Homo sapiens: one gene and its partners. The protein of the gene in region 2 purifies or fractionates together with the protein of the main gene of each other region. This does not show direct contact. Each region holds a gene or a part of one and is shown on either strand. Other genes may lie near its edges.

The links. The genes of interacting proteins can lie anywhere in the genome.
Region 1: the proteins of CD1A (region 2) and TMEM59L purify together in Homo sapiens (affinity purification with mass spectrometry; one large-scale study listed by BioGRID and IntAct). This does not show direct contact.
Region 3: the proteins of CD1A (region 2) and ECEL1 purify together in Homo sapiens (affinity purification with mass spectrometry; one large-scale study listed by BioGRID and IntAct). This does not show direct contact.
Region 4: the proteins of CD1A (region 2) and MAN1A2 purify together in Homo sapiens (affinity purification with mass spectrometry; one large-scale study listed by BioGRID and IntAct). This does not show direct contact.

The regions. Positions count from the first base shown.
Region 1 is NC_000019.10:18,615,870-18,618,717, reverse strand, and holds part of TMEM59L (transmembrane protein 59-like precursor), read right to left. Parts: intron 2,744-2,848; coding exon 2,591-2,743; intron 1,719-2,590; coding exon 1,616-1,718; intron 564-1,615; coding exon 446-563; intron 344-445; coding exon 226-343; intron 1-225. UniProt on the Homo sapiens protein: Modulates the O-glycosylation and complex N-glycosylation steps occurring during the Golgi maturation of APP. Inhibits APP transport to the cell surface and further shedding.
Region 2 is NC_000001.11:158,252,672-158,257,439, reverse strand, and holds the start of CD1A (T-cell surface glycoprotein CD1a isoform 1 precursor), read right to left. Parts: upstream 3,017-4,768; 5' UTR 2,771-3,016; coding exon 2,713-2,770; intron 2,357-2,712; coding exon 2,090-2,356; intron 1,437-2,089; coding exon 1,158-1,436; intron 655-1,157; coding exon 376-654; intron 20-375; coding exon 1-19. UniProt on the Homo sapiens protein: Antigen-presenting protein that binds self and non-self lipid and glycolipid antigens and presents them to T-cell receptors on natural killer T-cells.
Region 3 is NC_000002.12:232,482,068-232,484,834, forward strand, and holds part of ECEL1 (endothelin-converting enzyme-like 1), read right to left. Parts: coding exon 2,734-2,767; intron 2,530-2,733; coding exon 2,405-2,529; intron 2,157-2,404; coding exon 1,934-2,156; intron 1,448-1,933; coding exon 1,349-1,447; intron 1,113-1,348; coding exon 1,038-1,112; intron 888-1,037; coding exon 784-887; intron 542-783; coding exon 483-541; intron 403-482; coding exon 351-402; intron 1-350. UniProt on the Homo sapiens protein: May contribute to the degradation of peptide hormones and be involved in the inactivation of neuronal peptides.
Region 4 is NC_000001.11:117,401,949-117,405,461, forward strand, and holds part of MAN1A2 (mannosyl-oligosaccharide 1,2-alpha-mannosidase IB), read left to right. Parts: intron 1-237; coding exon 238-493; intron 494-3,513. UniProt on the Homo sapiens protein: Involved in the maturation of Asn-linked oligosaccharides. Progressively trim alpha-1,2-linked mannose residues from Man(9)GlcNAc(2) to produce Man(5)GlcNAc(2).

The DNA.
Region 1 (2,848 bases), on a different chromosome or scaffold from region 2:
ATCTCAAAAAAAATATATATATATATATTATATATATATATATACACACACACACACACACACACACACACGTATATGTATATATATGTATATACATGAAAAAAGAAAAAAATGTCTGAGGTCCTGGCCTCCATGGGAGCAGGTGGCCAAATCCAGGACCAGCAAACAGCTCTCTCTGCCTTCACCCCCTCCCTCGGCCCAGCGCCATTCACAGATCCCACCCACCTGGAACTTGAGGTGCTGGCCAGGCGCGGTCACCAGGGTGGAGCAGCTCAGCCACAGCATCACCAGCACGGAGAGGAAGAGGCAGCAGGCCAGGATCCAGCGAGGCAGACCCGAGCGCCTGCCCCGCCCGGCAGGCACCACTCAGCTGCCCAGGCCGGGACCAGGGAGACCCGTACCTCCAGTCCCACCCCCCTCCCACCCCCAAGGTCCTGCCACCCACCGGGACATGCAACTGAGGAAGTCATTGTCCTGTGGCTCTTCAGACTCCACCTTGGCCTTGCTGCTGGTCTTGACTCGGATCTTGGCCTTCCTCACCTTGTCCAGGGGGCCTACAGGGTCTGAGAGATCAGCTGCCACTCAGCGACCACCAGGTCTTTGCTAAGAGGCCACAATAACCATGACCAGGAGGGAGGAGGTCAGGACCTGGGGCATAGAGTCCTGGAATGGAGATCAGAGCCCTGGGAGATGGACCACAGAATGCTGAGACAGGGACCATGGAACCCTGGGAGATGGATCCTAGGAGATGAACCATGCAACCCTGGGGGTGAACTGCAGAATCCTAGGAGATGAACCATGGAACCCTGAGAGATAGACCAAAGAACTCTAGGAGATGGACCCTAGGAGATGACCCTAGAAGATGAACCCATGGAACCCTGGGAGATGGATCCTAGGAGATGACCCTTAGGAGATGAACCCATGGAACCCTGGGAGATGGAACATGGAACCCTGGGAGATGGAACATGGAACCCTGGGAAATGGACCATGGAACCCTGGGAGATGGACTGCAGAACCCTGGGGGATGGGCCACAGAACCCTGGGAGATGAACTGCAGAATCCTAAGAGATGAACCATGGAACCCTGAGAGATGGACCAAAGAACCCTTGGAGATGGACCCTAGGAGATGACCCTAGGAGATGAACCCATGGAACTCTGAGAGATGAACCATGGAACCCTGGGAGATGGGCCACAGAACCCAGGGAGATGGGCCACAGAACCCTGGAAAGTGAACCATGGATCCCTGGGAGGTGGACCACAGAACGCTGGGAGGCGGAACACGGAACCCTGGGAGGTGGCCACGGAACCCGGGAGGTGGGCCACGGAACCCTGAGAGGTGGACCACGGATCCCTGGTAAATAGACCATGGAACCCGGGGAGATGGACCACGGAACCCTGGGAAGTAGACCACGGAACCCTGAGAAGTGGACCATGGAACCCTGGGAGGTGGACCATGGAACCCTGGGAAATAGACCATGGAGACCTGGGGGATGAGCCATGGAACCCAGGACTTGAGAGATGGAGATCCCGATCCTAGAAGGTCTGTTTGCCAGGCCGACTCCTTGTGGCAGTGGGGCCACCCATGGAAGGAACACTGGTCTAGGTTGCACCTTACCCACGTGCACCTCCAGGGCTTCAGGGTGGGAGCCTCGCCAGGTCACCTCCACGCGCTGCAGACGGCCCCCCTGGAAGCCGAGGCTCTCCACTATGGGCTGAGTCTGGGCCAGGAACAAGACAGCACAGAGAGGCTTGTGAGAACAGCACCCCTGGGCCCAGGCAGGCCCTCTGTGACTGCCATGTCCCACGCCCAGCTGATACCCAGTTCCCCTGGGTATCAGGGGTGGGCTTGATGTCAGGGATGTTGTTTTCTGCTTTCATGGGCTCCTCCATTTGCCTTAACCCCATCCTTTAGCTCCAGAAGTAGGAACATGATCCAGACCAAGCCAGTGAATTGCCTGAGAGATGGTCATATGATCCAGCCAGGGCCAATCAGAGTAAATCCCAGCTCAGTTAAAACCCCAGAGGGAGCCGGGGCAGTGGCTCATGCCTGTAATCCCAGCACTTTGGGAGGCCGAGGCAGGTGAAACACCTGAGGTCAGGAGTTCGAGACCAGCCTGGCCAACATGGCGAAACCCCGTCTCCACTAAAAATACAAAAATTAGGTGGGTGTGGTGGTGGCCGCCTGTAATCCCAGCTACTCAGGAGGCTGAAGCAGGAGAATCACTTGAACCTGGGAGGTGGAGGTTGCAGTGAGCTAAGATCATGCCATTGCACTCCATCTTGGGCAACAAGAATGGGAGTCCATCTCAAAACAACAACAACAACAACAAAAAAAAACCACAGCGTTTGTAACCTAGAGCCTCTGGCATCCACCTTACTGCCAAGAAGAAGTAAATGCCTGGGAATGAAGCCACCACAAAAGAAAGCAGAGTCAAGGCATGGAGTGAGACACTGAGCCCCTGGATCCAGCTGTGCCTGAAGCTCGCCCACTGTGGACTTTGCATCTCATGAGCTAAGAGCCAATGCATCCCATCTTCTTACCCTGCCCACCCATCTGCCACTCTGGCGTGGCCCCTGTCAGAGGTCTCACCTGAAACACCACCACTTTCCCATTGTCAGTCTGCAAGTAGTATGTCCAGGTGGAGGAGACAAATCCCTGGGCTGAGTTGACAAGGTCATTGCAGAGGGTGGAAAACAAGTCCAAGAGGGAGAGGGCCCCACTTGGAGCCTCCAGGACCTTTCTCTGGTGAAAAAAGGTCCAAGACACAAAGATGGCACCGAAATAGGGCATTAACCAATGAATGGGAGGGGGCAGGATGTGGTGGCTCACGCCTGTAATCCCAACACT
Region 2 (4,768 bases):
CCCACGGAACTGTGATGCTCTGTGAATTTGGGGAGACACCAAGGATGTTATAATCCATCCCATTTTACCTCATCCACTCCCTATTTCACTGCATTCCCTGGGCTTCTTTTTTTCATTTGAGTATCCAACTTACCAATCTCCTTTTTTTCTATGTTTTTCTCTCATCCCTGCTCAGAGATGGATTCTTCAGTTAACCCTCAGCATCCTCCTGCATCTACAGGGCCCTCATTTTCAACATTTCCATTTCTTAGATTATCTATTTTTATTCATGTTTGGGCTATAATCCCTAAAATCCTAAAATTTTCAGCTTGCCCTCCCTCTATGCCTGAGGTCCACTTCCTGGCATTTCCAGCCTGGGCCTTAGCTTTTTCTCACCCCAGTAGAGGACGATGTCCTGGCCCTCTAGACTGCTGTGCTTCACCCGACAGGACAGGTCAGCTGCCTCCCCAGCGGCCACCTCCAGGGTTGCGCGGAGATACCATGTCCCATCAGCACTGGGCAAGATGTCCCCTCGCTGAGTGCCCTGCTGCTCCTGCTCACCCCGCATCCACATCACCCACACGGGCTTTGGGTAGAATCCTGAGACATGGCACACAAGCTGCAGATGGCCAGGGCCAGGACTGGGGCCATGGGACAGCCAGGCCTCGGGCTTCACTGCAAAGGACAGAAAAGATATTCAAATACAGACTTGGAGTTTCATATCTCCACAACAGTTTAGAAGTTTAGATAGACACATTGTTCCCATTTCTCTTTTTTTTTTTTTTGAGACAGGGTCTCACTCTGTCACTATGCTGCAATGCAGTGGCATAATTATAAATTATAGCTCACTGTAACCTCAAACTGTTAGGCTCAAGCGATCCTCCTGCCTCAGCCTCTTAAGTAACTGGGACTACAGGTGTGTACCACCATGACTGGCTAACTTATTTTTATTTTTTAGAGACACTGGTCTCACTCTGTTGCTCAGGCTGGTCTGGGACTCCTGCCCTTAAGAAGTCCTCCAGCCTCAGCTTCCCAAAGTACTGGGATTACAGATGTGAGGCACTGCACCCAGCCTTTCCCACTTCTGGGTGGCTCTTCCTTATTCTAAATTGGAAGGAGGTGGTGGAAGGGTATGATTTTCAAATCAAAACTTCTTGGAGGGAGAGTGCAGGACTGACCTTGCCGCTGGAGATGTGCCTTTCCTGCATCAAGAAGACCCAAGATGAAACGTGGGCAGGTGTCACTGAGAAGATTGTGTGTTATGTCATTTTCATGCTGATTCTGATTGAGCACTTTGCAGAAATGCTTGGCCATATTCCCAGCCACTGGATATGGCAACCATGAATTGTTCTGGAAGCTCACAAAGTCTGATCCTTGATAAGCTAACTGCAAGAAGCTTCCTGAGACCTTTCCAGAGTGCAGCTCACAGCCTCCTGTCACCTGTATCTCAAAAGGATCTGGGGTTATGAAATAGAGGAAAGAGGGAGAAAAAAATATAAAATGAAATGAGTAGAAGCAAAGATTATAGAAGCAGAAGGGGGAAGTGTGCAGGGTTTGACATAATGGAATAAAATTTGGTTTGGTCAGGGATTCAGAGAAAGAGGAATTGGTGGGAGCTGTAGGTGGAGGAAAAGATTAATAACATGAGGAAGAGGGCAAACTGGTCAAAGAAGGTGATGTGAATGCTGTGGGTGAGCAAGGACCTGGTGTAAGAGAACTGGGATTATAACAACTTAGGTTGAATTAAATGCAATGGGTTACAATTGAGTATATATAGAGAGACTGCTGAAGAGAATGAATGAGAAAGTGAGAAAGCTGAAGGTATCTGGTTGTAGGGCAGGCAGAAGGGTGGTCCTGGGATACCTGTAAGAAAAGATAATAATGCACAACCCTGCAATCAATGAGAGAGGAGTTCATAAGTAGCAGAAGTGTTTGGAGAATTAAGGTCTGGATGATAGCCCTTGCCCAAAAGTATGCAATTGCAGTTTTATGGTGGAAAGAATAGAATAAGATACAGAAGAGAGTCAGGCTGTTTCCTAAAGGAATAAGAAACATTGAGACAACCCCTCTCTCCCACCTCACCACTCTCCATGGAGAAAACTGAACTCACATTCAAACTGCAATTCATGGGCGTATCTACGAATTCCCTCAAATGACCGAATGGTGCGTATACGGAATAATGTTTCCAGTTCCTTCCACTCCTCATTGCTGAAGTTTCCCCTGGACCAGGGGCACAGGAAAACGATGGTGCTGGAATTGCTGTCCCAGGTATGAGTCTGCAAATCACTCAGCCAACCTGAGACCAGATTTTGTTTCCAGGAATGGTTGTAAAAGGATGCGATCCAGGTGACATGGAAGGAGAGAGGCTCCTTGAGCCCTGCGACAAAAGAACAGATAGAATGGGGAGAAAGACATTGAGAAAGAGGATGGAGAGAGAAAGGTGCCAGAGTGCGGGAACTCAGAATCTGGAGAAAAGGGGATCCATCATGATCTTAGCAGACATTCACTTGCCACACAGTCCCATGCCTTATCAACCACCTTCATAAGAGCTCAGGGACCTGGAGTCATGGATAGTCAGAATGGAACCAGCCTGGCACTCTCACTTTCCAGGTATATGCTAGGGAAACCACACACACACACACACACACACACACACACACACACACACACACACAGAGAGAGAGAGAGAGACCTTCACCCACCACCCAACTGGGCAGTTGTCAGAGTTCTTACCGTCTGCATTGCCATCACCTGGGAGAACAGCTAACAATGGAAGTAGCAAAAACAGCATATCATTTGCAGATGTTATTTCCTTCTCTCAGAAAAATTGGTCTTTGATTTCTGTTCCAAACAAACCTACCCCACGATATCTCTATTCTGACTTCTTTCTGCAGCCAACAGACAAACCTCCCCTGACTGCAACAAAGAAAATCCACTCCTTCAAAAACCCTGAGATGCCTACTCAGTCTCTCATTTCCCTCTGGTTCTGACTCTCCTCTCTGTTCCAGCTTCTCTCCTTGTCACCAACCTCCAACTTATTCACCTTCCCCTAATTCAACTGCTATGGAACAAGTCTGATGTGGCATTGAAAAGCCACTTAACCACTAAGGACATTTTTTTCTCAATCATACAATAAGAGCATAAAGTGAAATGGCTCCCAGTGTGCTGCCCAATGCTCCCATGTCCCTGCTCTTTTTGATCACTCTGTCCTTTTCAATATTTTCCCATGTATTCTCTTCCCCTGTCTCTTCAGCCCCTTACTACATTCACATTTCTGATTTAACATTGATTTATTTGCTTTTTCAGAGTCTCCTACGACTGCCCTGTGCGACAGTACAAACTAACACCTTTTCTCCATTATTCTTAGAGAAGAGCCAGTAACCATCACAAAAAAAAAAAAAAAAAAAAAAAAAAAAAAAAAAAAAAAAACCACAGGAACACTAAAACATATAAAGAAAATTTCCTCTGTTTGATTTTCATTGATATACATTCACTCACCCAACAGTCTCTCTTAGCACCTGCCTGGAGTCAAGCATCTTGGTACACTTAAGAATATGCAGTGGTTGACAACACAATCACTTTACTGAAGGAGCTTTTTCTCTACTTAGGGAGAAAAACACGCCATGAAATATAAATCTTGGTGTACTGAGTTTTATTATACTGTATACACTCTCTGGATAAAAACAAGGCCTGCTTGAAATAATATTTTCTAAAATGGGGGCTCCTAACTAATGTACGCCAGCCCAGAATTTTGACTTCAATGTTTGACTTGGAGTGTTAGTTCCATACAGTTATCATACTGTATCCCCACCTAACAGAGTATCTCACAAGTGGTAGGTGCTTAGTGAATATTTGTCAAATGAATGAATGAATTCAGTCTATGCATCCATTTTTTAATTATGGAGGTGATATTCAACATGAAACTTTTTAAAGATATCATAAAAGTTACTTGTAACCCTATGTAGTGAGATGAGAATCTCATACAGTTTTATTTAGGATAAAAGTACAAGTTACTGGCATGAGATTTACATAAAAGATCCTGCTATAAATGTCCTATTACTTATAAGAAACTAGTCAGAACTTGTGAGCAGTGAAGTTAATGGAGTATTCCAAAGTCTTTATCCCAGGATCCCTTTTTATTAGTCCTATTTGGATGTTTCAGGGTTGTTTTGTTATAAATGAGTCTTTGCCGGACACATTTACATTCCTCTTTTACGCTGCTTGTAACTGTTGAAGGGCTTCTAAATATATGTTTGTGCTTTGTAGATATCATCCATATAAATGTGTCTGGGCTATTTACTATTTTTTGGTTTTCAAAAAAAAAGTATCTGAAGCTAATTTAGGGGGAAAAAATTTTTTTTCTTGAGACAGGGTTTCACTCTGTTACTCAGGCTGGAGTGCAGTGGAATAATCATAGCTCACTGTAACCTCCAACTCCCGGCCTCAAGCAATCCTCCTGTGTCAGCCTCCCAAAGTGCTGGGATTGTTGGCATGAGCCACCAGGCATGGCCTGCAAATAATTTTTTTATTTGTTTTTTGTTTTGTTTTGTTTTGTTTTGTTTTGAGACAGAGTCTCACTCTGTCACCCAGGCTGGAGTTCAGTGGCATGATCTCAGCTCACTGCAACCTCTGCCTCCCAGGTTAAAGCAATTGTCCTGCCTCGGTTTTGCAAGTAACTGGGATTACAGGTATGCACCACCATGCCTGGCTAACTTTGATATTATTAATAGAGATGGGGTTTCACCATGTTGGTCTCAAACTCCTGACCTCAGATGATCCACCTGCCTCA
Region 3 (2,767 bases), on a different chromosome or scaffold from region 2:
CAGAGCTGGCTGGGCAGTGAAACAGGGCTGGAGGAGACAGGAGGGAAACGGAGGCACCTACGTAGGGGTTTCTCCTCCTACCTCATCATTAGTGTTGCGCCACCTTTGAAACATCAAAATGAGCCTCAAACAAGTAAAGAAGACCCCAGGAAGTTACAAATAACAAACCTACACATTTTTCTAAATAACCAAGGATGTAGTGGGGAGCCAGGGTCCACAGCTGTCCTGACTCCTGAACCCAGCTGGGTCTGGGGCGATTGGAGCCACAGTACGCCGACACACACCTGGTAGACAAGGTCTGCAATGCCAGCCCTGCCCTCAGCCACAAACAGGGCAAGCTATGTACTCACTGTGGGAAGTCAGGGTCGTACAGGGTGGGCTGCAGGATGCCCGCGGGGAACACTACAAGAAGGGGGTGCTCAGTGGGAAACCCATCCACTTTCGGACCCTGCCCCGCCCGGCGTAGGGACACATCCCCTTACCCATCTGGTTCTTGTTGGGTAGATAGTAGGCATTGAGCGCCTGTGGGGGGAGCAGCCACCTGTGGAGGGATGCTGGGGTGAATGGGGGGAACACACTCCCTCCCCCGCTACCCTCACATCACAGCTTCCTCGTCAGCCATCTCCTGACAGTCTGGGGGTCACCCTGCCGGCCCCCACCCCATGCCCTGTGCTGGCGTGTGTGCCCCCCATATCTGCATGGCTGTGAGACGATTTGCCCTACCAGCTCCTGCCCTTTCCCCACAACCCTTCCCTGACCCCCAGCTCTGGGCCAGGCACCCACGTGGACTTGTCCACCTCCTGCCGAATCTTCTTAACTGAGAGCTGGATGCTGAAGCGGATGCTGTTCAAGATGTTCTTGAAGTAGGTCTTCTCATGGACCTCAAACTGCAGGAGGCACGGGCGACACTCAGCGGCAGGCCAGGGCAGGGCTACCTGCAGACTGGGCAACAACCTGGCCGTGCAGGCCACCTGCCCTCCTGAGTGCCGTTAGTAGAGGGGCTGTGGACAGGCTGGGCAGGCAGGGTCAGGGCCCACCTCATACTCCTTGTCCACAGCATCGGGTTTCAGCAGGAAGTCCGGGTAGCCGACCATCACCATCATGTACTGGAGCTGCGGGCCGAGGGCAGGTGAAGGTGGCACCAGGCCTCGGGAGACAGCCCCCCGCCCCCCACCCTACCCACCAAGGAAGGGAGCACTAGGCCAGCCTGGGAGTGGGCTTCACAGTGGGGGAGGCAGGCCTGGTCAACTCCACGAAGGCCTCTTTGTCCCTTTTGTTCTCTTTCGCTGGTACACAGTAGGTGCTCAATATATATGGGACCAACCAATGACACTGGGTCCCCCCTCACCTTGGCCCGAGCAGCAGCCCTGGTCTCGGCGTCCATCCAGTCCAGCTCCTCCAGGCGCTGGCCCAGGATGTACTTGATGTCTTCCACTAGCTGCTGCACCTGCAGGGTCAGGGGTCAGGGAGCAAGGGTCAACCCAGCAGCCTGGTCTATCACTCCTGGCAGGAGGGGTACCCCTGCCTTTAAGCACCACTTTCTAAGCCCAAACCTCATTTCTGAACACCAAGAGGATACTTTGGAGGTGAGGATCCAGGCCCTGCACCCCCGAGGGCTCACAAGATAGAGGAGGAAACTGCCCCAGCAATGACCACAGACATCCCTAAGGCCACGCCTCCCGAGCATGCCTGAGAAGGTGGGCTGGGGCCTGGCAGGGAGGTCTGCCTGCAGTTGATAGTCCACATAAGCTTCCTGGAGGAGGAGGCCTGTGGAGGAGCAGCCTGGGGCCTCAGAATCGGCTGAGTACTTAGCAGGGCCTGGTCCCCCTGCCTGCAGGGGACATGTGGGGCTCCCCATATTAGGACCATGGCCTCGGGAGGGCTCCACCCTCAGTTCAGCACCATCCTCCTCTCTCAAACAAGGGCAACCCACCTTGGCTTTGCTGGCAGCTGAGAAGTGCTCATGTACAAAGAGGGCGCCAAGCGCCATGCCAAAGTGGCGATTGGCCTGGCCCAAGCAGACCCGGGCCAGCTCCTGTGGCTTGTCGCTGCCCTCCATCTCCTGTGCCAGCTCGTGCAGTGCCTCACGGAATGGCGGGGACAGGTGTTCACTCAGGACCACCACCACGCGCCACACCAGGTAGTTGTGCAGGACCCTGGGGACCAGGTGAAGCCAGTGGGTGTCCAGACGGACATGCATGTGGGCCACCAAGGGCACCACCCCTACCTGTGCCCGCCAACCTGTGGCTGGACCCAGGACCCAGACAGCCCCACAAAGAAGGGACAGGGGGTCATCCCAGCTATGCAGAGCAGAAAATGTAAAGCCCACCCAGCAGAGAGGTCCAGGGTGCAGGGGAAGGACCTAGTGACCGCTGGGCAGAAAATGCCAGATCTGCAGCCATACCGGTGGGGTGTGGAGCGGATGAGCTGCGACACCTGCTGCATGTAGTCTGTCGCCAGCAGCACCACCTCCTCTTCCTCTGAGAAGTCCTCCTGGAAGATCTGGTCTAGCAGCCACTTCCACCGCAACTGTGAGACCAAGGACAGGGACAGTGAGGCTAGGGTTGGCAGGGGCCACAGAAGACAGGGAGGGGGCAGAGAGAGGCAGCGAGGGGACATGAGAGTCCATGGCCAAGGAACGGTTTGCCCATCTCTGGGGAGAGATGACCCTGTAGTCCCAGCAGCAGCATTGCCCTCAACCCTGCCTGCCCACGAGGACTGGGCCACACTCACGTGGGGGGTGATCTTCTGCAGCTGCCCCAGCGTC
Region 4 (3,513 bases), about 41 Mb from region 2:
TCTTAGTCTGGAAATTGTATAAAGAGATTATAAACAGAGTTTGATCTTAGGCATCCAGGGTTCCTTTTCTTTCTCATTCCAGATCTGAATGTGTCTCACTGATAATTCTTTCCTTTTAATGGCAAAAGTAGAAAACAAGTTCCTGGGTTTAATGGAGAAACCTTTATGTTTTATATTTAAAGGTTGACATTCTTAAGTAGGCTCACTGTTACGTTTTATTTCCTTCTTTTCTCACAGGGAAGAGGAAGAACGTCTGAGAAATAAAATTCGAGCTGATCATGAGAAGGCCTTGGAAGAAGCAAAAGAAAAATTAAGAAAGTCAAGAGAGGAAATTCGAGCAGAAATTCAGACAGAGAAAAATAAGGTAGTCCAAGAAATGAAGATAAAAGAGAACAAGCCACTGCCACCAGTCCCTATTCCCAACCTTGTAGGAATACGTGGTGGAGACCCAGAAGATAATGACATAAGAGAGAAAAGGGAAAAAATTAAAGAGGTAATAAGCTGAGTTTTGTGATATGGAGTGTTTATGGATTTGTATTTGGATACAAACAAATATATATAATCTATGGTATCCTGTTTTGATCTGTTTATTCTTGGGTCATAGTTGTAGTATAGTTTCCAGGTTGGTAATAAGGACTAGAACTCTTTCTTGTTTTTTTTTTTAATGTTAATTATAATGTAATTATTGGACACTTAAAATATTTTTGATACAACTTTTGGATGGTTAGTGCCACTCATTCTTTGTTCAGAGATCTTTTGAAATTCAGCGTTTTATTAATAATATATCTGTATATAACTTATTGTCTAAGCAGTTTCTTAAATGTTCAGTTACAAAGGGACTCTGCTAGATACTATGCAGATCACCTCATAAACATGCTTCTAAAGAGCTAGCATTATATCTCCAATTTTTTAAGGAACATGTCATGGTATCCCTCAACTATACTGTAGATTAAGAACACATTCCTTCCAAAAAGTCTCCATGGATTGAAAAATGGGAAAGAATTGATTTCAAAATTCTTTAAATTTATTTAGCCTCAGAAGTCTTTCAATTTGTTATTCTGTAGTTACTTAAAAGTAAAGAGAATACCAGATGGGAAAAATCTAGTGAATATTTGGGTTAAACTTTGTTAATTAGAACTCCTAAAAATTCTGGGTGGAGTTTGTGATTATACTGCCTGTGAAGAAAAATATTTTATCAGAGTGTAATTGTACCAACAATATTTCAGAAGGTTTAATTATTATAAAGTAAGATAAATTTAGTTCAAGTAATCAAATATCTATTTGGATATATTCTAGTAATGGATATGGAAGGTATAGCAGATACTTTAAGCTTAGCCTTATGAATTATTATAAAACCTTGACCTTGATGGAGTAGAAATAGAGCTGTGCTCTGATTTTACCTCACCTCTAGAGTCTGTTTTATATGTAGACTACTTAAGGCACTTCCTTCGGACAGTGTTGGGAGAGACAGTGATAGATTTTTTTTCAGATGCCTGACTTGCTTTTTTTCAGATGTCATTACAATGTACTGAAATACTTTTTTCAAATACGTAATAATTCAGATAGATAACCATGTGTGTTCAGGGGACCCCCAGATGATCCTCAGGTTCAGTGACTCACCAGAAGTACCCACGGAACTCAGCATATAGAAACATGTTTTAGTTTGCTGAACTTTTATCCTGTTATTTTACTGAAGTTATTTATTCTTATAGCTTTTTTGTAGATTGCTTGTGATTTTTCTTATACGTAGTCATGTCTTCTGTGAAGAGATACTTTTACTTTTTCCTTCTTGATTTTTATACCTTTTATATTTTTTTTCTTGTCGTACTGCAGTGGCTAGGAGTTCTAATACATTGTTCAAAGTAAGTGGCGAGAATGGACATACTAGGTTTGTTCCCAACTTTAGGGGTTAAGCATCCAGTCTTTTGCCATTAACTATGTTGTGTCAACTGTAGGTTTTTTAAAGATGCTGTTTATTAGGTTGAGGATGTCTCCTTGTAATTGTAGTTTACTGAGAGTTTTATCATGAATGAGTGTTGAATTTTGTCAGATGCATTGTCTTCATTTTTCTCTAGATGACTGTATGATTTTTTTTCCTTTATTCTGTTAACATGGTAAATTACATTGTTTTTTGGATGTTAAATTAGTCTTATATTCCTGGGTTAAACTCCACTTTGTCGTGGTATGGTATCTGTCTTAGATGTTGCTAATTTTTCTTAAGGAATTTTGCATCTGTGTTCTTGAGATACATTGGTCTTGAGTTTTCTTGTAATATCTTTGCTTGATTTTGGTGTCTGATTAATGCTGGCTGCATAAAGCAAGTTGGGAAATGTTTAATGAATAGTATGCTGTTAAATGAATAGATTTTTGGTCTACTATTATATAATTCGTCTGATATATAATTAAATACTCTGCTATTGTATAACTCAGAACTCCTTGGGTTGTAAGACACTCAGCTCAAACTAAGTGATACAAATAGTATTTATTGGTTTAATGGCTCTAAACAAGGGCTTCAAGTTTGGCTGAATCCAAGCCTGTAGATATTATTGTGAGTGTTAAGCATCTGTCTCTCTTTCCTTTTGCTAGTTTCTCCATGCTGGCAGAGAGCCATTATCAGCTCCAGGATTATATATTACATAGACCATCAGATTGCAGAATAAAAAAGCCCTCTATCTCATGGTGTCAATAACAATATGTGTAAAAAGAACTTGATTGTTCCTACCTGAATCACATGTATCCACTCACTTTGTTTAGGGCAGGGGTTGACAGCTGCAACCTGTGGGCCAAATTCTGCTTGCTGTCTGTTTTTTAAAAATAAATTTTAGGCTGGGCATGGTGGCTCACACCTGTAATCCCAGCACTTTGGGAGGCCAAAGTGGGCGGATCATGAGGTCAGGAGATCAAGACCATTCTGGCTGACACGGTGAAACCCTGTCTCTACTAAAAATAACAAAAAATTAGCCAGGTGTGGTGGTGGGCACCTCTAGTCCCAGGAGGCTGAGGCAGGAGAATGGTGTGAACCCGGGAGGTGGAGCTTGCAGTGAGCTGAGCTGGTGTCACTGCATTCCAGCCTGGGTGACAGAGCGAGACTCCATCTCAAACAAAAAAAATAAATAAAATAAATTTTAATTTGAACACAACCATGTCCATTTACTTAGATATTATCTGGGACTGCTTTTATGCTGTAACAGCAGAGTTAGTTTGTTGATCTCTGGTCTAAGGATAGGGGATTTTCTAGCTAGGGTGAGTTAATTGGTGGTAGAAGCAGAGCCTCTTGATTGACAGCTCTGTTATATGTGAGGAAAGGAGAGCTGTCCCCAAAAAGACTTAACATTTCTCAAAAGGAAAGAATGCCAAACAAATATGTACCTCCTGAAGAAAGAAGACTTTTCTATTATGCCCATTTTTTTCCTGTCATATAGATGAGATTAAACATAGTTATGTATGTTTTCATACTGATACAAATGCTAATTGAATAATGTACTAATATAGATCTGGAAGAATGGGCAAGGA